4 linked regions of the Homo sapiens genome follow. The protein of the gene in region 1 interacts with the protein of each later gene in a pairwise test. Each region holds a gene or a part of one and is shown in the gene's direction. Other genes may lie near its edges.

Region 1 (8,420 bases):
CTTGGGAGGCTGGGGCAGGAGAATTGCTTGAATCCAGGAGGCAGAGGTTGCAGTGAGTCGAGATCGTGCCATTGCACTCCAGCCTGGGTGACAGAGCGAGACTTTGTCTCAGGAAAAAAAAAAAAAAAAATTTAGCCAGGTATGGTGATGCACACCTATAATCCCAACTATTTGGGAGGCTGAGGCTGGAGGATCATTTGAGCTCGGGAGCTGGAGGTTCCAGTGAGCTATGATCACACTACTGTACTGGAGCCTGGATGACAGCAAGACCCTGTCTCCAAAAAAATGTCTAAGACATTGCTGGAGCCTTGAAAAAAAGAAAAAAAATGCAGAATTCGGGGCCCCACTCCACAGCTTCCAACCCAGGCTCTAGGGGTGGGACCCAGGTAGATGTGTATTTAACAAGTGCTCTGGGTGATACTTCATGTGTGTTCAAGTTGGGGAACTCTGGCTTTGATCAGTCATTCCACAGATGCTGACTGAGGCTGACACTGAGCCATGCCAGTGTCCCTTGCTGTGCTCTGAGAAGGAGGCCTGTGGCATTTGAGAGTGTGTGATGCAAACAGGGCCAGATCAGGTGCTGGGTGTTAGAGGGTAGAGCCCAGAAGACGGAGAGCTCTGGGAATGCATTCAGTCAACAGAGATTTGTCGAGCACCTTGTGCTAGCTCTTCCCAGTACTGGATGCAACTGTGAACAAAGCAGGCAGAAGCCCCTCTCCTTGTGGAGTTCATATTCTAACAGCGGGGACAAAGCCAGTAAGAAAAACTATCAAATGAACAAATATAATTTTAGGTGCCAGTAGAACAAGGGAGAACAATGAAATAGGGCAAGTGATAGAGAAAGGGCAGGGCCAGTGAGAGTTTAGGGAAGACTTCTGTAAAAGGTGCATTGGAGTTGGTATTTAAATTAAGAAGGGAGCCAGCCATGTGATAGGCCCTGAGATGGAAATGGGCTTGTATGTTGGAGGAACAGTAGTCGCCTGTGTGGCTTGAGTTGAATAAACGATGGTGAGAGGGGTTGAAGTTGCCTGAGAGGTGGAAACTAAATCCCATAGGCCTTGTAAAAGCATAGTAAGGACTTTGGCTTCGGCATCAGTTATCCATTGCTACATAGCAAACCACTTCAAAACGTGGTGGCACTTTGGGAGGCCGAGGCAGGTGGATCACTTGAGGTCAGGAGTTTGAGACCAGCCTGGCCAACATGGTGAAACCCCATCTCTACTAAAAATACAAAAATGGCTGGGTGCAGTGGCTCACGCCTTGTAATCCCAGCACTTTGGGAGGCCGAGGCAGGTGGATCACGAGGTCAGGAATTCGAGACCAGCCTGACCAACGTGCTGAAACCCCGTCTCTACTAAAAATACAAAAATTAGCCAGGTGTGGTGGCATGTGCCTGTAATCCCAGCTACTCAGGAGGCGGAGGTTGCAGTGAGCCGAGATTGCGCCACTGCACTCCAGCCTGGGCGACAGAGCGAGACTCTATCTCAAAATAAAATAAAAAATACAAAAAAAAAAATTATCCAGGCATGGTGGCACATGCCTGTAATCCCAGCTACTTGGGAGGCTGAGGCAGGAGAATCGCTTGAACCTGGGAGGTGGAGGTTGCAGTGAACAGAGATCGCGCCACTGCACTCCAGCCTGGGTGACAGAGCAAGACTCCAACTCAAAAAAAAAAAAAACCAAACCGTAGTGACTTGAAACAACAAACAACAGCCGTTGACATGCTTATGATTCTGTGGACAGGTTCAGGTGGGCCCGCTCGTCTACCTGGTGTGCTATCGGCTGGGTGTACACGTTTGCAGTCAGCTGATGGGTGAGCTGGCCTGGTCCCTGGCGGCCACACTCACCTGTCTGGCAGTTGACTGGGGCTATTGACCAGGGTGCCTTAGTTCTCCTCCACATGGCATCTCCAGTAGGCTAGCCAGGCTTCCTCACCTGGCAGCTGGGTTCCGAGAGGGCAAAAGTGGAAGCTGCAGTACTACCACTGTGTTCTGTTGGACAAGGGAAGTCACAGGCCACTCAGATTCCAGGGACTAGAAAAATACACCATGACCCAGTTCAGTGGCTCACGCTGCAATCCCAGTATTTTAGGAGGCCAAGGTGGGAGGACTGCTTGAGCCTAGGAGTTTGAGACCAGCCTGGACCACATGGCCAGACCCCGTCTCTACTAAAAATAAAAAAAAAATTAGCTGGGCCTGGTGGTACGCGCCTGTGGTCCTAGCCACTTTGGAGGCTGAGGTGAGAGGGTTGCTTGAGCCTGGGACGCTGAGGCTGCAGTAAGCCATAGTGGCGTGACTGCACTCCAGCCTAGGTAACAGGATGAGACCCTGTCTCACACACACAAAAAGAAATAAACTCTACCTCTTGATGGGAAAGTGTCAACATCACATTGAAAAGAGTTGAAAGGGATGGGAGGATTGTTTATAACTATCATTGCAAGCAGCCTACCACACCACATTGGATGGGAAGGTCTTGCAGGGTTTTGAGTGGAAGACTGATTTTTCAGAAGATCGCTCTGGCTGTTTTGAGACTAGAATGTTAGGGCCAAGAGTATAAACAAGGAGACCCATACTAAGTAGATGACTATAATAGTCTAGGGGAGATACTGAAGGAGCTTGAACAGAGGCAGTAGCGGTGGGGGTGAGAGGTGGTCAAATTCAGGATATATTTAGGAGCCCCAGTAGATAGGGTTTGGTAGAACGAGTGTGATGGGGGTGGGGTATAGAGAGAAGACAAGGCTAGCTTTTTGGCTTTCTTAACTGACTAGATAGTTCTATTGACTGAGATAGGGAAAATGAGTGAGCAGGTTTTGGGGGAAGTCAGGTGTTCTCTTTAGCACACGTAAAGTTTGAGATGCCTGTTGGATATCCAGTTGGAAATGCCAGTAGGCAATTGGATTTATAGGAATCAGGATGTAGTTTTGGGAACCAACCATTCATGTTGTATTGAAGGTTGTGGACTGGATGAGTGAGTGTTGCTAAAACAGAACAGATTTCTGAGGACTGCGCCTTGGCATTTTATGGTGTAATAAGAAGAACAAGGGTTTCAGAGTCATATAGACCAGAGTTTTAAATTCTGTCACTATTAGGTATTAGCAAATCACCATTACTTCTTCTTTTTTTATTATTGTTATTATTATTTTTTATCTTTTATTTGAGATGGAGTCTCACTCTTTCGCCCAGGCTGGAGTGCAGTGGCGTGATCTCGGCTCACTGCAACCTCCACCTCCCAGGTTCAAGCGATTCTTGTGCCTCAGCCTCCCCAGTAGCTGGGATTACAGGTGCCCGCCACCACACCCGGCCAATGTTTTTGTATTTTTAGTAGAGACGGGGTTTCACTATGTTGGCCAGACTGGTTTTGAACTCCTGACCTCAAATGATCTGCCCGCCTTTGCCTCTTAAAGTGCTGGGATTACAGGCGTGAGCCACTGTGCCTGGCCACCATTACTTCTTTGAACATCTGTTTTCTTAGCTGTAAAGTGCGTGTTGGAATACATACCTTGGGGGGTTTGTTTTTTTTGTTTTTTTAGAGATGGGGGTTTCACTCTGTTGCCTAGGCTAGAGTGCAGTGTCTTACAGCAGCCCTCCCGCCTCGGCCTCCCAAAGTGCTGGGATTACAGGTGTGAGCCACCACTCCCTGCCTACCATAGGGGCTTATAACTAAGATAATGTTAACTAAGTTAATTAATGTGACAGTTAACTAAGATAATGTTCAAAAGGTGCTGGTGGCCGGGCGTGGTGGCTCATGCCTGTAATCTTAGCACTTGGGGAGGCTTGAAGCCAGGAGTTTGAGACCAGCCTGGGCAACATAGCAAGACCCCATCACTACAGAAAATAAAAAAATTAGCCAAGTATTGTGGTGCATGCCTGTGGTCCCAGCTATTTGGGAGGCTGAGGTGGGAAAAATCACTTGAGCCTATGAGTTCGAGACTGTAGTGAGCCATAATTGTGTCACTCTACTCCAGCCTGGGTGACAGAGTGAGAACCTGTCTTAAAAGAAAAAAAATTTTAAAAAAGGTGCTGGCACCTGGGTCTTCCGTAAAGGGAAACTCCTGCCATCTGAGGAGCATGGGGCTTCTGAACTCAGGGCCTAGAATGGTAGTAGGATTTCTTGGAGATGGATCCTTTAGTTTTGGAGACCTGTGAAGCAGCCTTCACTGTTTCCTTCCTGTCTGTCTAGCTGTGCCCTCCTGGCTGAAGAAGCCCCAAGACAGCCAGCTGGAGGAGGGCAAACCCGGCTACTTGGATTGCCTGACCCAGGCCACACCAAAACCTACAGTTGTCTGGTACAGAAACCAGATGCTCATCTCAGAGGTGAGAAAGAAGAGTGTTGCTAGTGGATGGGCGGGGCCTTCCCTCCACTTGCCCTCTTCTGTGCTCACCTCCATAGCACTCTTACCCTGGAGGCAGCCTCCAGGGAGAGGTGGGTGTGGGTTCAGGCTCTGAGGCCTCTCACCTGTGCTGCAGGACTCACGGTTCGAGGTCTTCAAGAATGGGACCTTGCGCATCAACAGCGTGGAGGTGTATGATGGGACATGGTACCGTTGTATGAGCAGCACCCCAGCCGGCAGCATCGAGGCGCAAGCCCGTGTCCAAGTGCTGGGTGAGCCAGCATGTCTTGGGGGAGCACCCTTCCTGGCTAGGCAGGAGAGGAAAGGGGAGGGAGCAGCAGGCCTGGCCACGGCCTCTCCAGCGGCCCCAATTCCTCGTCTTTCTACCCACCCTCTGCTGAAACAGAAAAGCTCAAGTTCACACCACCACCCCAGCCACAGCAGTGCATGGAGTTTGACAAGGAGGCCACGGTGCCCTGTTCAGCCACAGGCCGAGAGAAGCCCACTATTAAGTGGGAACGGGCAGGTGGGTACAGTGCCGGCATAGGGTAGGGGCAGGCAGGCAGTTCACTGATCAGATACATACCTGAGGGCTGCTGGGTGCCCCGCACTGTGCCAGGAAATGTGGAGATTAGACAAGCAGTGCAGGGCTGATGTATAGTTTAGTTAGGAAGGAAAAAGCCAGACACAGAAGAGGTCAGATTATAGCCTTGGACAACATGGAAGACAACTCAAGGCAACAAGTGATTGGATTGGTTCAGACAGTGCTGTAAAGTCCTCTCTTCCCCTTTTCCAAAATAGTTTATCTTTTCCAACATAAAAATTACATGGAGGCCGTGCATAGTGGCTCACGCCTGTAATCCCAACACTTTGGGAAGCCGAGATGGGTGGGTCACTTGAGGCCAGGAGTTTGAGACCAGCCTGGCCAACATGGTGAAACCCCATCTCTACTAAAAATGCAAAAGTTAGCCAGGCGTGGTGGCACATGCTTGCAATCCCAGCTGCTTAGGAGGCTGAAGCAGGAGAATCGCTTGAACCCAGGAGGTGGAGGCTGCAGTGGGCCGAGATCATGCCATTGCACCAGAGTCTGGCTGACAGAGTGAGACTCTGACTCAAAAGAAAAAAGAAACAAAAGTTACATGGGCTCCTTTACAAAATACTGGAAGAGGCCGGGCGTGGTGGCTCACGCCTGTAATCCCAGCACTGTGGGAAGCTGAGGTGGGTGGATCACGAGGTCATGAGATAGAGACCATCCTGGCTAACATAGAGTAGTGAAACCTCGTCTCTACTGAAAATACAAAAAATTAGCCAGGGGTGGCGGCACGCATCTGTAGTGCCAGCTACTCGGGAGGCTGAGGTAGGAGAATTGTTTGAACCCAGGAGGCGGAGGTGGCAGTGAGCCGAGATTGTGCCACTGCACTTCAGCCTGGGTGGCAGAGCGAGACTCCATCTCAAAAAAAAAAAAAAAAATATTGGGAGAAAAAATGTACAGTCCTGCCGTTTATCATCTTTGGGTGTATGTCTTCTTTTTCTGTGCATATGTTTTTCTTTTTTTACCTAGCAGTTTTATTGTATATATAGTTTCAGTTATTAAATTTACATGATTGGCTGAGTGTGGTAGCTCATGCCTGTAATCCCAGCACTTTGGGAGGCCGAGGTGGGAGGATCGCTTGAGCCCAGGAGTTCAAGACCAACCTGGGCAATACAGGGAGACCCTGTCTGTACAAAAAATTTAAAAATTAGCCAGGCATGGTGGTGCATGCCTGTAGACATGCTTATTGTAGAATTAGACAATACAGATAACTATGTAGTTTTTAAAAATATTTTTTAAAATTATTTATTTTTATTTTTTTTGTAACGGTGTAATTTTATACCCTTTTTTACTTACCATTGTCAAGCATTTCCCCACATCTTTATACACTCTTCATGAATATTTGTTTTGATGATCCTAATAATATTTCAACAATTGGATTCACTGTAATTTACTTAACTGTTCCTTAAATGTTGGAGATTTGGGTTGTTAACCAGCCACCCACCCACCCCCTTTTTTTTCATTGCTGCAATAAACATCTTTAAGCCAAAGTTTTTTTCTGGATTTAGGTTTATTTCCTTTGGGAAAGATTCCCAGAATTGGGATAATTATGCACGAAAGGGGGTATGAACATTTTTATAGCCCTTGATGTGAGTTGCCAAATTATTTTTTAAAAGGTTGGACCAATTTTGACATTTCCACCTAGAGTGAGAGAGTACAGTTGTAGATTCTGAGGAGGAAGTAGGCTCCCTCTGCTCAGGTCTGGGGGAACTTTCTGGGAGAGGTGAGGCTTAAAATGGATCTACAGCCTGGGATGGTAAAGAGCGGGAATGGGCTCTAGGAGGGAGAAGTGATGGGCAGCGGAGTAGGAACAGGGCCGATCTGGGCCCAAACAGAGTCCGGTTTGGCAGACGTGGAATGTCACACAGGGCAGTAGGAGGAAGAGGTGAGACTGAAGAATTGGAAGAGGGGTAAATAACGGAGGGGCTTCTAACACTTGGCTCAGGAGTTTGGACTTTGCCTGTGGGTGGTCAGGAGCGATGGTGTGTTTTTGAGTAGAGGTGAGGGACTGAAGGCATTGCCAGCTGTCTGTGTAACCCTGATCCTTCCCATAATTTCCCTTTGTTACCCCTGCAGATGGGAGCAGCCTCCCAGAGTGGGTGACAGACAACGCTGGGACCCTGCATTTTGCCCGGGTGACTCGAGATGACGCTGGCAACTACACTTGCATTGCCTCCAACGGGCCGCAGGGCCAGATTCGTGCCCATGTCCAGCTCACTGTGGCAGGTGCGACCGTGGCAGGGCCCTGGGGCTGGGAGGGCCCTCTGGGGTAGCACCGTGTACCCTGCCAGCCCCTTGGCTTACCCCTCCCTGCGCCTCGCTGGTCTCTTTTCTTCCAGTTTTTATCACCTTCAAAGTGGAACCAGAGCGTACGACTGTGTACCAGGGCCACACAGCCCTACTGCAGTGCGAGGCCCAGGGGGACCCCAAGCCGCTGATTCAGTGGAAAGGCAAGGACCGCATCCTGGACCCCACCAAGCTGGGACCCAGGTAGGGCCACCTCTCTCCCACACCCGTCCCTCCTCTCCTGCAGCCCCCCTCCCTGCGAGCTGGCCAGCACTATGGCTTCTCCCCCGACAGGATGCACATCTTCCAGAATGGCTCCCTGGTGATCCATGACGTGGCCCCTGAGGACTCAGGCCGCTACACCTGCATTGCAGGCAACAGCTGCAACATCAAGCACACGGAGGCCCCCCTCTATGTCGTGGGTATGGGCTGGGGAGGGTTATGCTGCACAGGAAGTGGTGGGCCCAGACGTTTGTCACCTTGTACTCAGCCCCTGTGTACAGAACATGGCACAGAAGCCATTTTTGTGGCAGCGGTGGGGATTCGGCCGTCTCACCATGCTGCTGCACAGTCTTAGAGTCCTTGCTCAGAGCCGGGCTGTCGTTTATTTAACATCCAACGGTCGGTGTGTGTGTGTGTGTGTTGTGGGGGAGTGGGGGGGTGTTCTCTTCCTACAATGCTGCCTCCCAGGTTCCTGCAGCAGCCACACATATCTCTGGGTGGCTGGGGAGGAGGACCAGGTCAGAATGCAGTAGGACAAGGTTCTTTTCTCCAGGAGGCCCAGAGAGGATGATGGGTCAGGTAAAAGGCCCTGCACTTAACTCTCTGCCCCTGGGAGACTTATTTCTCCTCTGGGGACTTGTTTCTGCATCCACAGGTGAAAGTGGTTTAAATGAGAAGCTCTTAAACTTTCTTGGTTTGGCAGCAGAGTTATTTTTCTAGACAAAGTATAATGTGAAAGTTTAAATGGATGAAAATGAACTGAGGAGGCCCCCTTGGTGGGAGCCACTGGGGTGTGTGTGGCAGTTGGGGGATCCTGCATGGTCTCCCTTCATTCCCCTAATGCCTCTTGAGGCCCCTCAGTGTGGGCCATTAAAAGGCCCCTAGACCAGCAGATCCCTTCTACAGATCTGCTTATTGAAAAACCTGCTCTGTGCCAGGCAGTGCCTGGAATTCTAAACCTGAAGCTCCCAAATGCTGCTCTCCGGGGCC
Region 2 (8,416 bases), on another chromosome or scaffold:
TTCTTAAGTTCCCATATATACATAACCCCAGACATAAAGGAACAGTTAAAAGCCATTTCCCATCAATGCTCTGTTTGCAAAAAAGCTTCACCCCACTTCAACACTAGACCCTCTTCTTTTCTAACCCATCAATCCAAGGGACACCTTCCAGAACAGGACTGGCAAATTGGTTTTACCCACATGCCCCCAGTAAAAAGGGTTTGATTTCTTTTAGTTCTGGTTGATACCTTTTTGGTACGGGTCGAGGCCTTTCCCACAACCAACAAACGAGCTCCTACTCTCCAAATTAATAACAGAAATCATCCCCAGGTTCGGGGTGCCTCTTTCTTTTCAATCTGATAATGGCCCTGAATTCATTTCTCAAATTATTCAAACACTTGCACAAGCCCTACAAATCACCTGGAAGTTGCACCTCCCCTCTCGACCTCAATCTTCAGGAAAGGTTGAAGAAATGAATGGCATTCTACAAAAACACCCTCACCAGGTACTCACACCAAACACATAAAGACTGGGTTACACTTTTGCCTTTAGCCCTTCTAAAAATTCGGGTGCTCCAATGTAAACTTCTAACGCTCAGCACCTTTGAACTCATGTATGGGAGACCATTTGCCCCTCTGCTCCACCTCAGGGTCAAGCCCCACCTCCACCAATCCCTCTCATTTCCCCTCTTGTACATACCATCTGCCATTTCATTTAGGAATATGCTGACAAATACCTGCCACAACCCATCACCGACTCCTTTAATCCCTCCCTACAGCCAGGAGACTGGGTTCTGGTAAAATACCCCAGTCCTACCCTCAATTCCTGCTTCACACCTAAGTGGAAGGGACCTTACCAGATCATCCTTACCACACCCACAGCACCGAAACTCCAGGGACTCCCCAGCTGGTTTCATTGTACTTCTCTCAAGAAAACAGACTTCCCTTCACCACATACCCAAACAACCAAGTCTGAAACCCCTTCGGCCTTCTCTCGTGTCTCCCAGGACCCACTTCTCTTCGCCTCACCCAAATCCCTGAGGAAAAGGAGGAGAAATCCACATAAGCCGCTTATGTCTCTTTCTCTCCCAAACTTTCATCACTTCCTAACTAACCTTGTTACAGACCTTCAGTGGTGCCCTTAGGAAGCTCCCATTATACATCCTGATCAGCTCGTTACTGCTCTATGGGACCTATGGCTTCAAGGAACTTTCCAGGACTTTACTCCTACCCAAATAACTTTTTTCGCTTTTTGCTTGTTTCTTTCAATATAAATTCCCTAATCACATCAACCTCATCAATACAACCACTCCTCACTGCTCTCAAACTAGAACGCTCTATAAACCTTACACAATCTCTCTTGCGGCAAGCTAACTCTTCCTTTGCTCTGGAATGCTGGGTGTGTTTATCGCTGTCTTCCTTAGCTTACACAGCCCTTCCTACATTCCTTCATGACCTTTTAACAGGAAACACAACCCTAATTTATAAACTCCAAAAAGGAGCTTCCTTTTTTGAAAGAGCTGACACTCTAGTCGGTGATTATCCCACTTCCAGGGCCGATCAGGCCAACAAATTATTTCAAACCTAGGATAACTCCCTACAGCGCCTTAAGCCCCACGGCCCTCCCATTGAAGGGCCCATAACTAAACACACTCCTCCTCTTATAATGAGCCTCACTTTGCTTTTCAGCCTCGGAGGGAAATTTCCCTGTAGGGTCCTTAACATCTAACCTATGCAACCACACTATCATTGTTAAACACCCCTCTGACCATCAAACTAACCAGGCTAACTACCAAGTATCACCTGAAGCGAACGGAGCATTTCTGCAGCTGGCTCGTTTGACAGCCTTTCCCTCAGCCAATGCCTCCAGCCTAACCTGTGCTGCTCCTAGTGCCCACAATTTTCCTTGGCTCAATATCAATAGTGCAGCATCCGACCGCATTAAATCTGTAAAAAATAACTCTTCCTATACCTCTAGTATAGTAGGTGTCTCCCAGGCCTCCTCCTTGTCCACCTGGAGTAATGAACCACAGGAAAGAACAAACACCTCATCTTTAATTCACTTATTTTCTGTCCATATCTCTGCTTGTATTTACAATAAAGGCTTGTTCTTTTTGTGTGGTCTCAACACATATTTCTTTGTCTCCCCATCAACCAGACCAGAACCTGTACCCTAGTTTATCTTTCTCCCTCCATTGGACTAGTTCCTCCTAATCAATCTTTACCCGTTCCATCCATCCAATATGTTAGGAAGAGGAGAGCCATCCACGTCATTCCTTTAATGGCTGCCTTAGGTATAACCTCCGGGCTTGGGTTGGGAGCAGGCTGATTCGCCACCTGCTTAACATACTTGAAATCTCTTTCAACAGAACTGCAGAGTTCATTAGAGCATATGGCCCAAAGCCTTATAAGAGTCCAAGGCCAACTAGACTCCTTGGCTGGAGTAGACTCCTTGGCTGGAGTAGTCCTCCAAAATAGACAGGAATTAGATGTTATAACAACTGAAAGAGGGGACCTCTGCCTCTCATTCGGTAAAAAATGTTGCTTCTATCTCAATCAGTTGGGCCTAGTAAGAGACGCTGCTAAAAAACTTAAAGAAAGGGCTAAAAAGCTAAGAGAATAACAAGACAACCAAATAAATTACTGGTTTAAAAACAAAGTCCTAATATGGGTCATCCCATTCCTGGGCTCTCTCCTAAAAATATGCCTAGGAATAATGTTCTTACCCTGCTTAATTAACCTTTTTCTAAGTTTTTTTTATTTTTTTGAGACGGAGTCTTGCTCAGTCGCCCAGGCTGGAGTGCAGTGGCGAGATCTCGGCTCACTGCAAGCTCCGCCTCCTGGGTTCACACCATTCTCCTGCCTCAGCCTCCCAAGTAGCTGGGACTACAGGCACCCGCCACCATGCCTGGCTATTTTTTTTTTTTTTTTGTATTTTTAGTAGAGACGGGGTTTCACCATGTTAGCCAGGATGGTCTCGATCTCCTGACCTCGTGACCCACCCGCCTTGGCCTCCCAAAGTGCTGGGATTACACGCGTGAGCCACCGCGCCTGGCCACCTTTTTCAAAGATTTTTAACCAGCAGGATCATGGCCATCTCACAGACAATTACCCAAAAACATCTACAGACAGCGTTACTCCTACAATCAATCTGAAACCAAAGAACTCTCTGCTCACTCCCCCAGCAGGAAGTAGCCAGAAAAAATGCGCTGCCCCTTGTCCTTTTCATAACTATAGAGACTGGATTGATAGAGCAGGAGCATTGCCATCTTGGACAAACACCACCTTTCTAAGTTCCCCTTGATTAAAAAACCACCTAAATCCTACCCCAAAACATCAGCCTAACGGCTAATGTCAGCATAACCAGAAATATTCCAACCCTAAGATAAACCTCTCTTCAACCAGAAACATGCTAACCCTGAAATAACCTCTCCTCCAATAGCCTCCCCTCCGACCAGAGACATTCCAACCCTGCAATAAACGTTCCCCCACTTCCAAAACCCTTAAATATCCTTAGTCTGTAAGAGAGAATGCTTAGTCTGTAAGAGAGAGCGCTCCTGATCGAAATTGGCCAGAATCCCCTCTCAGGTTTATTCTCTGAAATAAACCTTTTAATGTTGAGCCGCTTTTTGTATTTATTTCCTCTTTCTTTAACGGTTACAAGCATTGTTACTTGAGTGTTTCTGCTGTAATGGAGGAGGCAGCATGAATATCTCAAACGGTTGCTAGTGAGAAGCCACGCAGATGAGAGGCATGAAGCCTTGTTGGGCTCCCTCCATGTCCTACAGCCAGAGAGCGTCAGAAATACATCTGCCCCAGAATGAACTGGGCTGAAAACTCTTTGCATGGAGGGAGACCACATAACCTGGGGAACTTGGGTAAACGATGTTGGAACGGAGGTGTAAGATTTGGGTTTGTGTTAGTTGATTTGGGGAAACATTTATGGAAACGGGCCTTTGCTCCGGATTGGATGTCAGGAAGAGGAGGATTCCATGATTGGATATCTTGATGAAGCTTATCTAGACGGCAGGAGGACGAGACAAAGGCTAAACATGTAATGGTAAAGAAGCAGCAATCACTCTTATTGGCCAAGACGAGGGGAATGTGGTCACTTTTGTGGCTTGGACAGTGTTCCTGTTTTGTCTGTGTTCACACTTGATTACACAGTGGTCTGTTTTTTTCTCTTGATCTGTATCACGGCCTGATGTTGGTGTTTTATGAAATTGTTCACATTCAAAGAGAACACCCAGGCCTAGCTGTTTGTGCCAGACCAACCCCAAGTCCTGGCTGCAGAACCAGGCCAGCTCCCCGATGTCAGTGGCCGCCTTTCTCTTTACAGGCATGGAGGGGGACACCATTAAGGAGGAGCCCCTCTTCTCCGCTCCCCACAGACACCAGTGGGTGCAGACAAGTCAGGGAATGCCTCCTTTCCCTCCGGCATCTTTTGAGGTTTCCGTCCTGACGCCCAGGGCCGCTCCATCCAAGCCTCGGTTTCTCAGTCTCTAAAACAGGCCAGAAACCAGGCACGCCGTGGTGAAAGGACGAGCCGAAGAGATGGCAAGAGCTCCAGAAAGCCTTCCCAGGCATCAGGGGCTGCCCTTGAGCTCAGACGTTTCTCTCTGGACAGGGCTTCTTGGACAGGAACTCAACGAAACTTGACAGAAATCGGACACCCCCAGCCAAGGAAAAGCAGGAGGGGCCCGGGGTTCGCCAAGGCGGGAAACACCGCGGGGCCCAGACGGCGCCGTCCGCCCGGCTCGCAGTCGGGGCGCGGGAGGGGCCCACGCGCATGCGCACCGCCCCGCCCCCAGCCGCCCCGCCCAGCCCGCGCGCAGCCCTCTGGGGCGGCCGGGCCACGCCGCGCGCCGATTGGTGGCGTCCGGGACTCTCCCTGCAGGTGACTGACGGCGCCGGCCGCCCCTGCCCGTCGCCCGCCCGCTGCTGCCGCCCGCCCGGGGTGTGGAGCCCGGCCGCTGCTCGCGGGCTGAGTGTCTGTCGCTGCTGCCGCCTCCACCCAGCCTCCGCCATGGACCTCTTCGGGGACCTGCCGGAGCCCGAGCGCTCGCCGCGCCCGGCTGCCGGTAAGCGGCGTTGCCGCCGGGCCGGCCAGGGAAGGGAGAGCAGGCGGGATGGGGGCGGCCTGAGGCCCGGGGCGGCTGAGGCGGCGCCCGCGCTGGGAGGCGGCGGGCGGCGCGGGCTGCACGGGGCCTGCTCCTGCCTGGCCAGGCCCCGTCCGGCCCACTGGCGGCCCTGTCGGAGGCCCGGTCGCTCGCGGAGCTCGGAGAGGCCGCTCCGCCATTTTCGCTACGCAGGAAGGAAAGGGCCGAGCCGTCGTGGCCACGGCCCCTCTGCGTGGCGGTGAAAGGCGCCGGCGCGACCGCGTGGGCCGACCCGAGGGACCGGCTCTGAACGCCCGGCGGCACCGCGGGCCCCCGCGCCCCGATTCCACCCGCGGCCTGGGCTGCCTTGCGCGTCGCCCGCCCGCGGCTTCCGGGCCGCACTTCACCCGCGGGCTGTGGAACGGCCGCGTTCCGGGCCGGTGCAAGTTCAGGGGCTTGGCGTTTTTATTTGCACTGGAGATTGAATTAATCACCATCTTAATCCTTCGTGTTTTTGAAGCCTGGAAGACAGGATGCCTCCTCTGTCATCCTGTGATTTTGTGATAATTAACAGTAGTTTTTTTTTTTTTTTTCTGGTCCACGGGAAGTTCCCCCTCTCCTTGAAGTTAAGGGGTCCGCTCATCTCCTAAGCGCTGGCCCCTGCCAGTGGGAGTCCCTGTGGGCTGTGGTTTGAGCTCAGCATCCTAGCAGCTTGAAACAGGGCCTGTGTTAATCCCTGCGTCCTGTGGGTTACAGTCTCCGGGTTTCATCTGTCAAAACGCGTGAATATTTCATATGCAAGACTTCCAGCTTGATGTTGTAGTTTAGGGCCTTATTACAAAATTTAACTTGGGGGCAGAAAACCTGGAAAACTTAAGACGTTCAGATTTCCAGGCCCACCTCAGCCCCAGTAAATCCGAATCCCTGAGAGTGGGGTTTCCGAATCTGTTACTAAATCCCCAGGCCAACCCAGCGGGGGCTGGAGACCAGTGGTTTGGGAGCTGCTGTTGTAGGGTAGACGGAGGTGAGTAAGGCCCAGCCTTCGCTTTCTAAGAGCTGCTTTCTGAAGGGTACTAATTACGGTAATTAAAACTGGCAAAAGTTAATGACTGTGGGAAATGCTGAGGACTCTTGAGGAGGGATTGTCGGGCACCGAGAGACTGGGGAAGGAGGCAGTGTTTGAATTGAGCTTCCAAGGATGTTCAGGCTTGTGATTTGCAGTAATTCTGGGCGAGAAAACATTTTATTTTATTTTACTTTTTGAGACGGAGTCTCACTCTTGTCGCCCAGGCTGGAGTGCAATGGTGAGATCTGAGCTCACTGCAACCTCCGGGTTCAAACAATTCTCCTGCCTAGGCCTCCCTACTAGCTGAGATTACAGGCGCCGACCACCACACCCGGCTAATTTTTATATTTTTAGTAGAGACGGGGTTTCACCATGTTGGGTAGGGTGGTCTTGAACTCCTGACCTCAGGTGATCCGCCCGCCTCGGCCTCCCAAATTGCTGGGATTACAGGTGTGAGCCACCGTGCCCTGCCCCCACTGACCGTTCTGATGGTACAGAGCATCTCAGTAACTGGTCCTGGAGTCTTTGAACTTGACTCAGCCATTCATTTTCAAAATAACCACGGTTTTAGCTGTGGGTAAAAATTGGATTTGTGTAGCAGTCTTTTTTCTCTTGTCAATGGAGTATAATTTCTATCTGAATATATTTGGGACAGCATTTGGATTCACCAGTGTGCGTGTAAACCTATGAGTCTTAAAATCTCCATTGCTTTTTACCTGCAATTAATTAGGTTCTGCTCAGGAGCAGGCTCCCTTGACTGACAAAAAACCTGGCAACTCAGAATCTCATAGGTTGGCACCTTAGCAGCCTTTTGCCAGATACAGTGGGAAAGGTACATCCTGTTGCCGTTTTTTCCAAACTCAGTTTCCAACCTTGACTGAGCTGAAAGGGTGGCAGAGGGGGTGCATGGTGTTTAAACTGCTGACCACCCTGAGATTGGATTGGTCAGCTGCTCCCCATCTGCCAGGAGGGCACTGACATTGTCAACAGGTCCTGCTTGGCTGAGTGTATTTTTAAAAATAGCTTTAAAACGAAGAAGATCTCAGAATTTGTAGATGATTGGAAGCTGAGAGGGATAAGTACTAAAATGAGTGACAATTGGGATCCATAGTTATCATTGCAGGCTGTTAGCTACAACCAACAAGATGAGATTTGACAGGTTAAAATCGTTTGTACAAGAACAGAATCTGGTTTCACATACTTGTGAAAATACTGTGATTTAAAAAAAAAAAACATACTTTGAATAAATCATATTGATTGCTAAAGTGAATGGAATAATGAGTCTAAACTGTGCATCATGACCCTCACACATGATATGTGGGTACCACAAATCTCTAATGCAGTGAACAATAAAAGACCTCGTTATTTTCCCAGAGCGCAAGAAAAGTTGTTCAGAAAGTGTAACCAGACTACTTGGTTTAGAATCCAGCTCTTCGCTTACTAACTGTGCCTTCTGTGGCTATTCCTACATGTGTAAAAAGGGGTGACACTTGCCACTGTTACTGTACAAATTAGTACAGTATGTATGGTGCTGCACATAGTGTGGGGTAGAATGTATAGTGTTTTATAGATGTTAGCCAGGGTTATTATTTTTGAGACAGCCTCATTGTGTCGCCCAGGCTGGAGTGCAGTGACATAAACACAGCTCACTGCAGTCTCGACCTCCGTGGGCACAGGTGATTCTTCCACCTCAGCCTCCTTGGTAGCTGGGACTACAGGTGCGCACCACCACAGCCAGCTAATTTTTGTATGTTTTGTAGAGACAAGGCTTTGCCATGTTGCCCAGGCTGCTCTCGAACTCCTGGGGCTCAAGTGTTCTGCCCACCTTGGCCCTCCCAGAGTGCTGGGATTACAGTGGTAAGCCACTGTGCCTGGCTGAGCCATTAACAGTTGTTTAAAAGTGGAAAAACGCAGTCTTAAATGAATTATGGGAAAGCACTGAGTGTCCAAAGGGAGAATACTACACTGCTTATATCACATCAAATGTATTAATATTTTGTTTAGATCTTTTTATTTTTGTTTTAAACGTTGCATCTAATGTTCCCACCCCTAAACCTCTTAAATGTTTATAATCTAGAAAAATACATAGAATGCACTAAATATTTCAGGTATTTTGCTAAATTAGTAGTTTTCATCCAAGCCCTTAAAAGTTTTAATTGCTGAATGAATCAAGTTTTTTAAAGGAGAGATGTATATATTTTACCTAAAAAAAAGTGTTTGTTCATATCAGGCAGAAATGGAACTTTCCTATGTCATACCCATAAAAGTGCCGA
Region 3 (7,000 bases), on another chromosome or scaffold:
CTTTTGAAGAAACTGAAGAGAAATGGTTATCTTCACTGGAAAATACTCGATGGTTAGAATATGTAAGGTTTGTACTTCTTTACTTTCTTTTCCTTTAACTTTTTATTTTGAGATAACTACAGACTCACTGGAGGTACAAAAATAGCACAGAGGGCCATGTACTTACTCTTCATCCAACTTCCCCCAATAGTAACATCTCGTAACTAGAGTACAGCATCCAAACCAGGAAGCTGACACTGGGACACTGGATAGCTCTTACTCACCAGTTCATACATGCTGTCGTCTGTGTGCATGCCCTTAACACAGCTGTGCGATTTTATCACGTGTGTAGGTTCACGTAACCACCACCACAGGGAGATACAGACCTGTTCCATGACAAGGCTCCCCTGTGCTAGCCTTCTTATAGGTGCACCCTCATCGCCATCTGTGTCTGTTGACTACCACTAATCTCTTCTCAATCTCTATAGTTTTGTCATAAGTCAACCCCTTCCTTTTCATAAAGGGTTTATGAATTTCCCTGATGAAAAAGTACAAAATGAGGCCAGGCGTGGTGGCTCATGCCTGTAATCCCAGCACTTTGGGAGGCCAAGGCGGGTGGCTCACCTGAGGTCAGGAGTTCAAGACCAGCCTGGCCAACATGGTGAAACCTTGTCTCTGCTAAAAATACAAAAATTAGCCAAGCATGGTGGCACGCACCTGTAGTCCCAGCTACTCAGGAGGCTGAGGCAGGAGAATCACTTGAACCTGGGAGGCAGAGGTTGCATTGAGTCAAGATCACGCCACTGCACTGCAGCCTGGGTGATAGAGCAAGTCTCCATCTCAAAAAAAAAAATTTACAAAGTGGGGCCGGTTGTGGTAGCTCATGCCAGTAATTCCAAAGCTCTGGGGAGGAAGATCACTTGAGGCCAGTAGTTCACAACCAGCCTGAGCAACACAGTGAGACCCCATCTCCACAAAAAAGTTGGAAACTAGCCAGGCATGGTGGCATGTGCCTGCTGTCCTAGGGAGCCTGAGGCAGGAGGATCACTTGAGGCCAGGAGTTCACAACCAGCCGAGGAACATAGTGAGATGCCCATCTCCACAAAAAAATTTTAAAACTAGGCAGGCATGGTGGCTCGTGCCTGTGGTCCTAGCTGCTCAGGAGGTGGAGGCAGGAGGATCACTTGAGGCCAGGAGTTCAGGGTTACAATGAGCTGTGATATGCCACTGCACTCTAGTGTGGGTGACAAAATGAGAGCCTGTCTCTTAAAAAGAAAACAAAAATTACAAAATATACTCCTTTGAGAAATCGTATAAGTAACTAAAGAAACTTTACGGTAATGCGAAAGCTATGTGCATTCAGTAGAAAGCAGTCAATCCTCTCTTGTGATGCTGAGTAGCAGCAGGGAGCCACAGCTGCCAGTCAGCCACACAGTCTCAGTTTAGGGTATTTTCAGCTTACAGTGGGTTATCATGGGTCATGAGTTATGGGAATATCATGATCAGAGAGCATCTGTAAAGTGAGAAATTAGATTTGCTTGATTTCAAGTACTTTATGTATTTGTAGTGGAAATTTGATTTTTAACACTGCTTTTCCTTTTCTCTCTTCAGGGCATTCCTTAAGCATTCAGCAGAACTTGTATACATGCTAGAAAGCAAACATCTCTCTGTAGTCCTACAAGGTAACTAAAGTAACTCCTGAAAGCACCATGACCACCATACCAGCCAGCCTTGGTTTACTGCTTGTCCCCATTCAAGTAAATCACATCAGTTTTAGCTATTTCTTATTTACTACAGTACCATCAAATACATTACAGATTTTGCACATCATTTGAGTAAAACAGTGGCACAGGCTGGGCGCAGTGGCTGAAGCCTGTAATCCCAGACTTTGGGAGGTCGAGGCGGGCGGATCACTTGAGGTCAGAAGTTTGAGATCAGCCTGGCCAACGTGGTGAAACCTTGTCTCTACTAAAAATACAAAAATTAGTCAGGAGTGGTGGTGTGCGCCTGTAGTCTCAGCTACTCGGGAGGCCGAGGCAGGAGTATCACTTGAACCTAGGAGGCGGAGGTTGCAGTGAGCAGAGATCGCACCACTGCACTCCAGCCTGGGCAACACAGCAAGACTCAAAAAAAAAATAAATAAAAACCAGTGGCACAAGGACTGCAAATAGAAGAATAGAAAGTAGTCCAGTTTTTACCCTTTATTAAATTATCCTTCCTATTTTATGGGAAGGGTGGGTCCCATCCCCTAATGGATTAATACTTAGTGTTAATTTTGACAGGGCATTCTCTCTCTGTAATTTTGCTGTCTAATTTGTACAAATTTGTTTTAGTTTAAATACCTTCTGGCTCATGCTAGATTATGACTCTAAGGAAGCAGTTTGAGATGAAGAAATTTAGACTGAACTGCTGAATAGCTAGTAATGTAATATTTGGTAGGAATAAACGGTGATGTAAAAATCTTTCAGTTAAGCAAAGGATAATTACATATTAAATAACTTACAGCTAATAGAATTTGTAAGTTTGCAGATAAAGTTCAATAGACTAAAAACTACCTTCGTATAATACAGTAGTAGGTCCTTTGTACCCATGGCTTCCCCATCTGTGGTCAACCAACCCAGGACTGAAAATATTGGCGGGGGAAAGCTTTGGCCGTAATGAACATGAACAGACTTTTTTTTTGTTGTCATTATTCTCTAAACAGTATAGTATAACAACTGTTTACATAGCATTTACATTGTATTAGGTGTTATAAGTAATCTAGAGGTAACTTAAAGTGTACAGGAGGATGTGCATAGGTTATATGCAAATATTAACATCATTTTATATCCAGGACTTAAGCATTTGTGGATCTTGGTATCCAAAGGAGGCCCTGGAATGAGTTCCCCATGGATACTGAGGGAAGACTATATACTCATGTTGCATAGTATATGAATACAAAATGTTGCTTAAGCTTGCAGAAGTACTTTTTTTTTTTTTGAGATGGAGTTTCGCTCCTGTCACCTAGGCTGGAGTGCAGTGGAACGATCTCAGCTCACTGCAACCTCCACCTCCTGGGTTCAAGCGATTCTCCTGCTTCAGCCTCCCAAGTAGCTGGGATTACAAGCATGCACCACCACGCCCGGCTAATTTTTGTATTTTTACTAGAGATGGGGTTTCACCTTGTTGGCCAGGCTGCTCTCGAACTCCTGCCCTCAGGTGGTCTGCCCACCTCAGCCTCCCAAAGTGCTAGGATTATAGGCGTGAGCCACCGTGCCTGGCCAGGCTTGCAGAAGTACATTTAACAACTGCCAAACTTGATTGACTTTAACAAGGCAAAAATCTTTAAGACTCTTAGAAAAAAATCAAATAGTAATGTGTCATATAAAGTAATCCTGAACTGATACAGTCAGAGTGTGTGTTTAACTCACAAATGCATGCAGAGCCTAATAATCACAATTTCTCTCATCCAGTGGGTGTTCTCATCGTATTGGAGAACCCTACTCATCCTCCATTTCTCCATGCATTTGTAATAGAAAAGGCCTCAGAAGTAGCACTGAACCTTCATTTTACTAGCATTTTTATATACGTTTATTTTTAAACAGTTTGTTAAAAATTTACATACTATGGAATTCACCCATTTTTAATTTGTAATTCAGTAAATTTTAGTAAATATACAGAGTCTAGTTTTGGAAATTTTTCATCACCCCAAAAGTCCCAGCTCCAGGCAGCCACTAATCTTTCTGTCTCTAGATTTTCCCTTTCTGGGCATTTCATATAAATGGAATCATACAATATGTGGCCTTTTGCCGCTGGCTTCTTTCATTCAACATACATGTTTTTGAGGTTCATTCATGTAGTGTGTATCAGCAATCTTTTCCTTTTTATTTCTGAATTGTATTCCACTGTTTGTAAATGCATTTTGCTTACCCATTTACCTGTTGATGGACATTTGGGTTGTTTCCACTTTGTGGCTGTTATGAATTATGCTGCTTCATTTATTTAGATCTTTCATTTTATCAGCAGTGTTTTATTATGTAAGTCTTATATTTATTTTGTTAAATCTCTTAAGTATTTTATTTTTATGTCACTGTGAATATAATTGTTAATTTCATTTTCAGGTTTACTATGTACTCAGATTGTTGTGTACAGAATTTCTGTAACCTTACTGACCTCATTTATTAATTCTAGTAGTTATTTTGTGGATTCCGTAGGAGTTTTTACATACAGGATCATATTGTCTTCAAAGACAGTTTTTACCTTTTTCTTTCTGATCTGAATGCCTTTTATTTTCTTTTTCTTGCCTAATTGCTCTGGCTAGATTCTCCAGTTCAATGAGATGGAGAAGTGTAGAGAACAGACATCCTTATCATCTTCCTGATCTTAGGGAGAGAGTATCCAGTCTTTCACCAGTGAAATGGGAATAACATTAATTGTAGGTTTTTGTGGATGTCTCTGATCAGTTTAAATATGTTTACTTTTATTCCTAATCAGGAATGAAGGTAGAATTGTATCAGATGCTTTTTCCGCATCTAATGAGATAATCGTGTTGGTTTTGTCCTTTATTACTGTGGTACGTTACTACAATTGACAGATGTTAAACCAACTTTGCATTCCTGGATAATTTGGTTTACTCATATTTTTATTGATTTTTACATCTGTAATCATAAGGGATATTGGTCAATAGTTGTCTTCTGATTTCCCTGGCTGACTTTGATAGCGTGGCAATTCTGGCCTTATTGGAAAGGACAACAACTATAAAAGACAGGAGGGAATCGTTTGCCACAGCTTCAGTTGGTAGTGAACAGTCCCACTCTCCCCATTCACTTCTCAGTATTGCCATGTGGCCTGTCAGTAGAAAGATTACCTTATACTTAATACCTTGACAAAAGAGCAGTAGAATGGAGTCTAGACGGATTTTCTACCACAAACCATTCGAATGTAAAAAGTATGAGTGATGAGCTTCTATTATCTGGCAAATATCCATGTATAAAAGACCATCTCCTATTAAATGCTAATTTAGTTTATCTACAAGTCTGTAATATTTTAGAGTTGCTGGAATCCAGTAAAATTTCCTTATACAGATTTGGAAGGCAGCCTAGGTGTGCAGAATACTAAATTATCTAGTTTACCTTTCCTTCCCTTTCTCTCTCAGCATTTTTCTATGTTGTAATCATTTTCTTTCCATTTTATTAACAGAGGAGGAAGGAAGAGACTTGAGCTGTTGTGTAGCTTCTCTTGTTCAAGTGATGCTGGATCCCTATTTTAGGACAATTACTGGATTTCAGAGTCTGATACAGAAGGAGTGGGTCATGGCAGGATATCAGTTTCTAGACAGATGCAACCATCTAAAGAGATCAGAGAAAGAGGTAACAAAATCTTGATGCCTTTTTATCAGTCTTTAAGGATACACAAAATAAAATTTGTGTCATTAAAAGATGAAGGGGCTTTTAAAAAATACTGTATTTAGTACAACTTAATTTCCTTAGTCCAAAGCTAACTAATGGATTAGAGTTCAAATTGATGTACTTATTATAAAGATTATCGTAACTATGAAGGTGAAATTTTTAAAAGTTGTCTATTGAATTTGTCTAAGTGGAAAACTACTGAAAAAATTCTGAATAAAATACTGAAAAACAGATAACAAGCACATTGGCTATTTTGAAAAATCACTTTTGGAATATCATATTTTCTTAAAATGGGATACATAGGTTAAGATGAAAAGTTTGAGAGGGCCACCTTTGCAACAGCTGTGGAGTTAGTGGCTGCCTCGGATCTCTAGTTAGGCTGCGGAAGGCCTTACAAATATCTTACCGGCCAGGCAGGTCAGTCAGATCAGTTTTTAGAAGGTTGTTTCAGAGAGCGCCATTTGACTTGTGGTGTCTCATAAAAAATAGTGGTCACCCGCTACTGCACTTGGGGACACACCACGTGACCTAGGCTCATCCCAAAGTGTTTTCTGAAATATGGGGATGTTTTCTGGATGCTGAGCCTACAGGATCAACCAAACATTAGAGAAGTTTGGTTGATGGTTTTGTTTTGTTATATAATCTAAAGAATTGTTTCTAAGACATGCTTAAACACATATTTTGCTCTTCCCCCTTCATATAGTGGCAACCCGCTCAACTGTGTGCTTTGCTGTTTCAACTTGTTACATGTACTGGGCAAATAAGGGTTGTGATGTTTATCACGGTTGAATGTTACTTCTTGGGTTTGATAGATGTGTATAGCTCAGCTTAGAAGGCAAGTGTTTTAGGCTTCGATGTTTTCTCATTCATCTCTTCTTTAACATCAGCAGTACATTTTGAAGTAAATGTGAACGGCTGAAGGATAACATTAAATGATCCCATTGTCTCTTTGTATTTGCCAGTCTCCTTTATTTTTGCTATTCTTGGATGCCACCTGGCAGCTGTTAGAACAATATCCTGCAGCTTTTGAGTTCTCCGAAACCTACCTGGCAGTGTTGTATGACAGCACCCGGATCTCACTGTTTGGCACCTTCCTGTTCAACTCCCCTCACCAGCGAGTGAAGCAAAGCACGGTAAGCAACCCTGTGGCTGTGGCTACGTTTTCCCTGTTTTTACAACTTTATCGAGGCATAATTGAAGTATAATTCACTGCCTATTTAAAATCTTATGATTTAAAATTCTTACTGCCATTTTCAGCTGAAATTTCTGAATGGATTATTTTGAAGACACAAAAATCTAGGAAATTATTTTTATGAATGAACATTTTTTGTTTTACTCTAATGTAAATGTTTTGTAGTAAACCCCTTTAAAGATGTAAATTACTTTAACCACCTTAAATGTCATGCTTTTGTATTTATATTTCACATTTGGGCTATTGGGTAGTAAAAAACAAAAGCCCTGTTACACGACATTTATTTCCTAGGTCAGTAGGATAAAAAGTTGTACAAAACAAGATTATTTTCCTTCACGAGTTTGAAGTTTCTGGTCACAATTCATTGATGTAGAGGATTTATGACTAAGCAGGGTCTCAAGCCAAACTTGAAACCATTCTGAACCAAAGTGCCATTTCACCC
Region 4 (5,692 bases), on another chromosome or scaffold:
AACCATGGAACATGTTTTGTTTTGAGGACTTTGGTATTGTATTTTTATCCTCTAGTGCTTAATAGATACAACTTATGTTCAGTAATTATTTGTTGAATGAATTGAACTGGTGGGACAGAAGGTCAATTCGTTGGCCAAATGGTGTCATCATTTGTTTGCAGAGGCCTGCAGGGCCAGTTAGGCAACATAAGAGAGCAAACTAGGGGGTTGGAAAAGGAAATAGTGGGGCTTGTGGTGAGCTGTATCTGAGCCTAGATTAAACACCAGCCAGAGTTTTTGAGCTCTGTGGAAGTAAAGGCTTTGGATAGAAGACTAATGAATATATTCTCCATATGAATAATAGAAATCTTTAAAATGTTCTAGACTATTTCTGTTTTCCAGTTCACTGGGTACTGTGATTCACTAAATAAATATGTAAATAAATGAATATATATATGTGTGTGTTTATATATATAAATATATGCACACACACATATTTGCCCCTCTATATTGATGTACATATGAAATACTTTACCCTATAAAAAAGTTGGTTTAACAAAGGTCGCTTGTCTAATGTTTATTTGCTACATCTCTGTTTATTGATAATTGATGGAGCTTGCAAAAACAACTTTGTTCTAAGTTATATGCAGTTTGAAGAATTTCTGATTTCTGTTAGTGATAACATGCACAACTTTACTAATCGGAACAAAAGTAAAAGTTAAATATTCTCAAGAAAGCACTAGCTGAGCTACACACACACACATACACGCACAACATACCTTTGTGGCATTCTTATAGCTGGGGGACTTAACTGGCTCTGCCCTCTGACTGCTTGCCAGACTTAGAAGAAACCGAGAAAAAGCAGGTAGAAAAATGTTTATGCTCTAATTGCGAGTGTGGTAGCTGGCGTCCCTCAAGTGGAATGTATATGGGCTTCAAGGCTTTTGACCAACTTCACTGGACTTTCTTAGGGTCTTACCTCTTTTATTCGCACTGTGGGTTCAGGTATATTTATAGTATAGTGCTCTGATTCTTGATCATCTCACACCTATTTTGAAGTATTAGCATGAACCACATACAAGAAAGTCAATAGCCAAACCTTTTCCATTCTTCCTACAGCTCTTGAAACTGGCAGCCTTGAGAACCACCCATTTCCCTTACTACCTCTCACCTAAGCCTTTCCTGGTGCACGATGTTAACTTTACACTATGTATATTACTATTTAATGTCGACACCGCTGTCTTTTCATTTCACATCTGTTATGACATTGTGGCTTTCGCCCTTTGCGGTCAGGGACCATAACTCTTTGACATACTGTGTTAACAGGGACTTACTCAGGAACAGCCATTTGGCTGTTCATGGGGTGTAAAATTCACTGCAGTTTTGAAGCTGAGAAAAGATAGCTTGAATCCTTTTGTAAGTTCTTTGGAAAATGGACAGATTCTTTTTTACTGATAACCTATATCATCACCAAAATGGACCTGTCTTATAATTGACTAGACCTGTTAATGAAATGTTACAGACTAATTTGAGAAATAATTATTGGGTGGGAGAAAAGGGCATTTACTAGAAAATCAAGTAAACTTTGTTATCCTCAGGTATTTAATTGGAAGAATTGAGCAAAAAATTTGTTAATGTTTAGATTGATTTATGTTCCTTTTTCTAATCACTGTTTCCTGCTAAAAAAAATAACTGTTTGGCAAACTTTCTGTAACTCTCTATCTTTTCCTGGTTTATGTCTGTTGTCCCAGGCATTCTGATTACATATCCCAATCACAATCCTTTTATATGTTAGTATCTAATGTGATGTGGAAGAATTTGTATGGTTTACTTGAAAATTGCCTATTGTTTATTAAATTCCGACAGCAAGACTCTTCTGCATAAATGTTTTTGGGTCTTAAGATCAGATTTCAAGCTGGTAGTACTTCATTTCCCCTTAAGGGAAAGGATGTGTAAGATATTTATAAATTCAAGCATGCTTAAGGAATTTATTTAAATGGCTGCTAATTCTACTGCATTAGAAGCATGCCATTGATATGTACTGAATTAAATTTAAGGATATATCATCTCAAAGTATATTCTAGTAATCTTTAATTAGTTAAAAGTATCTTTTAATATTGTTAAGTAAAACTCATTAATTGTAGAAATGCTTAGAGATGAGTTTAGGCTACCTACCGATTTTTAAATTAAAACTTAATTTTTTAATCACTATAAATAAATTAGTAAACCTTTTAAAATATAAAGTTTTCTTACAATCACTTTGCGTAATTGAATATCTCATTCTTACCTAGCTAATGCTTTGTGTCTCCTGTCTTTTTGTTTCTGTTTTGGCTTAGTTTATTTCATTGATCTCTAAGCTGTCTTGTGTGGAAGGGAGAAGCTGCATGACTTGCTAGAAGTTTTACATGTGATGGAATTTAACCTCAGTTTATGTCTCTCCCTGCACAGTCCCTTCAGTCTGAATATGTTCATTACTAAGGCCTTGCCACTCCAGTGAAAGCTGTTCTTCTCTTAGACACAATTTCTTCATCTGGACGAGCAGTGGAGAGGGAAAGCAACTTCTTGCTGGAAGAATATCTCTGCCTTCTTACCTTAAATTAAAAAGAGCACTAAGATAACACCTTCAAGAGACTTGAAAACAGAAAACTGGTTAATGACTACTATAAATGCACTGAAACTATGTTTATGGAGATTTCCATACTTTTAAAGACAGTTTTAATGTTGAATTTGGTATTTTGAAGGGTTATTTTTAATGTATTTTGGTAATACATTTATTATTATATTTACATGTACAGTGTTACATTATATATGTATTGTGAACTTTAAAAGACTATTTTGATAAATTTATAAATATATAAAATTATGTAAAAACTACACTATATTTTGATTTAGATTTTCCTGCTGTTTGCTACCAAAAATTTGTATTTTAAATCTGTTTAGTTTTAGTATGGTTTTGTCTCTAATGAATAAATAATTCCTTCTTATTAAGAAGAAGTAAGGGAGAAAGTTTTTAGAAAGTGATTTTTATGCTCGCACTATAAATATGGCAGGTCAGTTCATTCTTTTGGGAAGTCAGTTTAGTTACACTGAGTTTATCCAAGTTTATCTCTACCAAGAGTATAATGGCATGGGATGGCTTATTTAGGACAATTCCCTTTCCTATTGTTTTTGTTGCTGAGCCAATTTGAGTTAGTTTTGCATCCTGGGGGGCTTTAAAATACAGCATGCAGTGAAAGATCAGAATTCACTGAATATTTCTTCTGAGAGCATGGTTTCATGGTTTTTCTCTATGAAATGACTCAATATTCCAAATGTTTTTTTTTCCTTCCTCCTTTCAAAAGAGTTCTTAACCCAATTAGGATATCCTGCTTTGGGTATGAGGTTGTTGTTGCCTGTAATCACACATGGTTTGACATCAGTTTTAAATCAATGGAGAGAAAAAACTGAAAAAGATGCTGCTAAGTAGTTCTCTGTATTAAAGGAGATATTTTTAAAACAGGGTACAACCCCCTGCTGCACACGCTAGCATATCTGGAACCTACTATGAAAATGAAAGGACCCTTATAGGTACTCACAGCCCTTTCATGTAAGTATGATCTGATATTTAGGTCTTCAGAAGCCTGTAGGTTTCATTTCTATGAGGAATCGAGGAGCGTTACATCCTGATATCCTTCCAGGCTGCTTAAGAATGGACTGCTTCGACACTGAAAGTGCTAGTTAAATGGATTCATATGAAGTGCTTTACTCCCAACCATTGAGTTATTTATAATGTATTTATTAGGGGAGGGTACCTTGAGTCTATTATATATGCTTCATCAAAACATCTTGTTCATGTTTTATGTTTTTAAAAAAGGCATTTGAATGAATGTTTGACTCAGGTTTGTTAAATTAACCTTCAGTAACTGCAGTACCAAAAATTACACTCAACTGATGAAAAAAACGAATTGTATGATTTAGGAATCAAAAACTAAAATAAGTGGAATTATGTATCTTTTCTAAAGTTAAAAAAGTAAAATATTTTATTATGAGTTATTATAAAAATTGGTTAATTGTATAGGAAGATGACAGTATTTTTTTCAAGTTATCATAAAAAGTAATTCAGATGACATTTGAGAAGTAGGGGAAAGGGAATCATGTTGACAGTTTTAGTTCTGTGAACACTAATTTGTGTGAAGCTATTAAAATGATTGTAAAGTTGACTACTGTAAATTTCCCATAATTATGTGTGTATATGTGTCATATGTATGTACATGTATATGTCTAAAAATTACTTTACACATGTGCCTACATAGACACACCAAGAAGTGGATGTATATAATATAGAAAGTATATAGCAAAGTAATTTTACTCTGATAATAAAAATTGTTTGACATGTATTTTGTTATGAATAGTTTATCTTCCAAAAGATATTTTGCTCTATTTTAAAGTGTAGAAGAATACACTGCTAATAAATAATAAAAGTTTTATTCAATTTACTTATTTTTTGGTGTTTATAATTTGAATTTTTGAGTTATCAATGTACTGAAGTCTCTTTATAATTTTATTTTTGGTTCAGTGTGGTCAGTGCCTTGAGTGTTTCAAGATCTCTATTCTGGATTTTAGTTTAGCTTTTATTGACTTTCTAGGTTGTGGCCATTGCCTGAAATACATGACAGTGAGCTCACAGAAACCTTATACTTTGAATTTCACAAAAATCATATAATGTTAGGTTCTTGCTTGCTTTCCCTTTATTTTTTTTACTGTCAATAAAATACTGATCCTGATCAGTGTTTTGGGTCCTGCTTAGTCATTTATGACTACTGATGACTATTGTGTGATTGATCACCAGTTCCTTTTGAAAAAGAATGCCATTTTTCCTAAATGAGAAATTATAGAAATCAGTTAGAAGAAACCTCACACCTGTTGGATCTATGCCCTGAAAAGTCAGTTTGGGAGGAAGAAGCTACACTATTTATTGGAGATATTTTATATAGTAAACTGGATCTCTTTGGGTTATGATGATTCTGAGGTTTTTTTTTCCTTAAATTTTTTTTTTTTTTTTTTTTAGAATGCAAAGGAAAGTTTGTGGGTGAGAAGGTAGTTTTACATTTGGAATTGGGATCTGCAAATAGCTGTCCTAACAACACTGCATGAAACAATTGGGGTACCAAGGTTTTCATAGGACCACATCTTAAAGAAGGAGATTTCTTATGAATTAATGAACCTGTTTCACAGGGCAGAAGGAAATCTTTTTTTGTACAGATTGGGTTTTTATGAAAAAGAAAGTAAAAAAAACAAATCAATTAGCTGGTTTCAGCAGATTTCTCACCTATTGAGTTTACCTGTTTCTTTTTTATCCTTAGATGTAAAATGATTTATAAATCTCAAAACACACCTGGGAAAACTATCTATGTGATTCAAATATAGCAGGAACATGAATTTACCAACTATACACAAATGTATTTTGAAAATTGTTTTTACTTCTATGCTTTCTTCAGTGACATGTTAAACCATTAATATGTTGAGTCTAATTAAACCAGTTGTTAGTATATAAGCTGAACAGGACTCCGTGGGCTTCATGTCATATAAGAAGTCTGTACTCGTTCCAAAAGTCATAAGGCAGAGTCCCCTTTGCAACACTTAGCAAAGCAAGAATTTGGTCACTGTATGTCTCCTCAGAAGATTAATTAGGGACAATTCCAATTACAGAAGTATATAATTTACAGCAGAAAAC

The links.
Region 2: the proteins of PTK7 (region 1) and ILKAP interact in a two-hybrid assay, tested with the Homo sapiens proteins (one study listed by BioGRID and IntAct).
Region 3: the proteins of PTK7 (region 1) and MTMR10 interact in a two-hybrid assay, tested with the Homo sapiens proteins (one study listed by BioGRID and IntAct).
Region 4: the proteins of PTK7 (region 1) and CDC14A interact in a two-hybrid assay, tested with the Homo sapiens proteins (one study listed by BioGRID and IntAct).

Annotation. Positions count from the first base shown.
Region 1 is NC_000006.12:43,134,670-43,143,089, forward strand, and holds part of PTK7 (inactive tyrosine-protein kinase 7 isoform a precursor), read left to right. Parts: intron 1-4,179; coding exon 4,180-4,313; intron 4,314-4,466; coding exon 4,467-4,602; intron 4,603-4,736; coding exon 4,737-4,856; intron 4,857-6,998; coding exon 6,999-7,148; intron 7,149-7,261; coding exon 7,262-7,412; intron 7,413-7,502; coding exon 7,503-7,630; intron 7,631-8,420. UniProt on the Homo sapiens protein: Inactive tyrosine kinase involved in Wnt signaling pathway. Component of both the non-canonical (also known as the Wnt/planar cell polarity signaling) and the canonical Wnt signaling pathway.
Region 2 is NC_000002.12:238,200,142-238,208,557, reverse strand, and holds the start of ILKAP (integrin-linked kinase-associated serine/threonine phosphatase 2C), read left to right. Parts: upstream 1-4,862; 5' UTR 4,863-5,004; coding exon 5,005-5,059; intron 5,060-8,416. UniProt on the Homo sapiens protein: Protein phosphatase that may play a role in regulation of cell cycle progression via dephosphorylation of its substrates whose appropriate phosphorylation states might be crucial for cell proliferation.
Region 3 is NC_000015.10:30,946,629-30,953,628, reverse strand, and holds part of MTMR10 (myotubularin-related protein 10), read left to right. Parts: coding exon 1-67; intron 68-1,590; coding exon 1,591-1,661; intron 1,662-5,157; coding exon 5,158-5,327; intron 5,328-6,328; coding exon 6,329-6,499; intron 6,500-6,849; coding exon of another isoform or gene 6,850-6,903; exon of another isoform or gene 6,904-7,000.
Region 4 is NC_000001.11:100,515,824-100,521,515, forward strand, and holds the end of CDC14A (dual specificity protein phosphatase CDC14A), read left to right. Parts: intron 1-2,427; coding exon 2,428-2,457; 3' UTR 2,458-4,454; downstream 4,455-5,692. UniProt on the Homo sapiens protein: Dual-specificity phosphatase. Required for centrosome separation and productive cytokinesis during cell division. Dephosphorylates SIRT2 around early anaphase.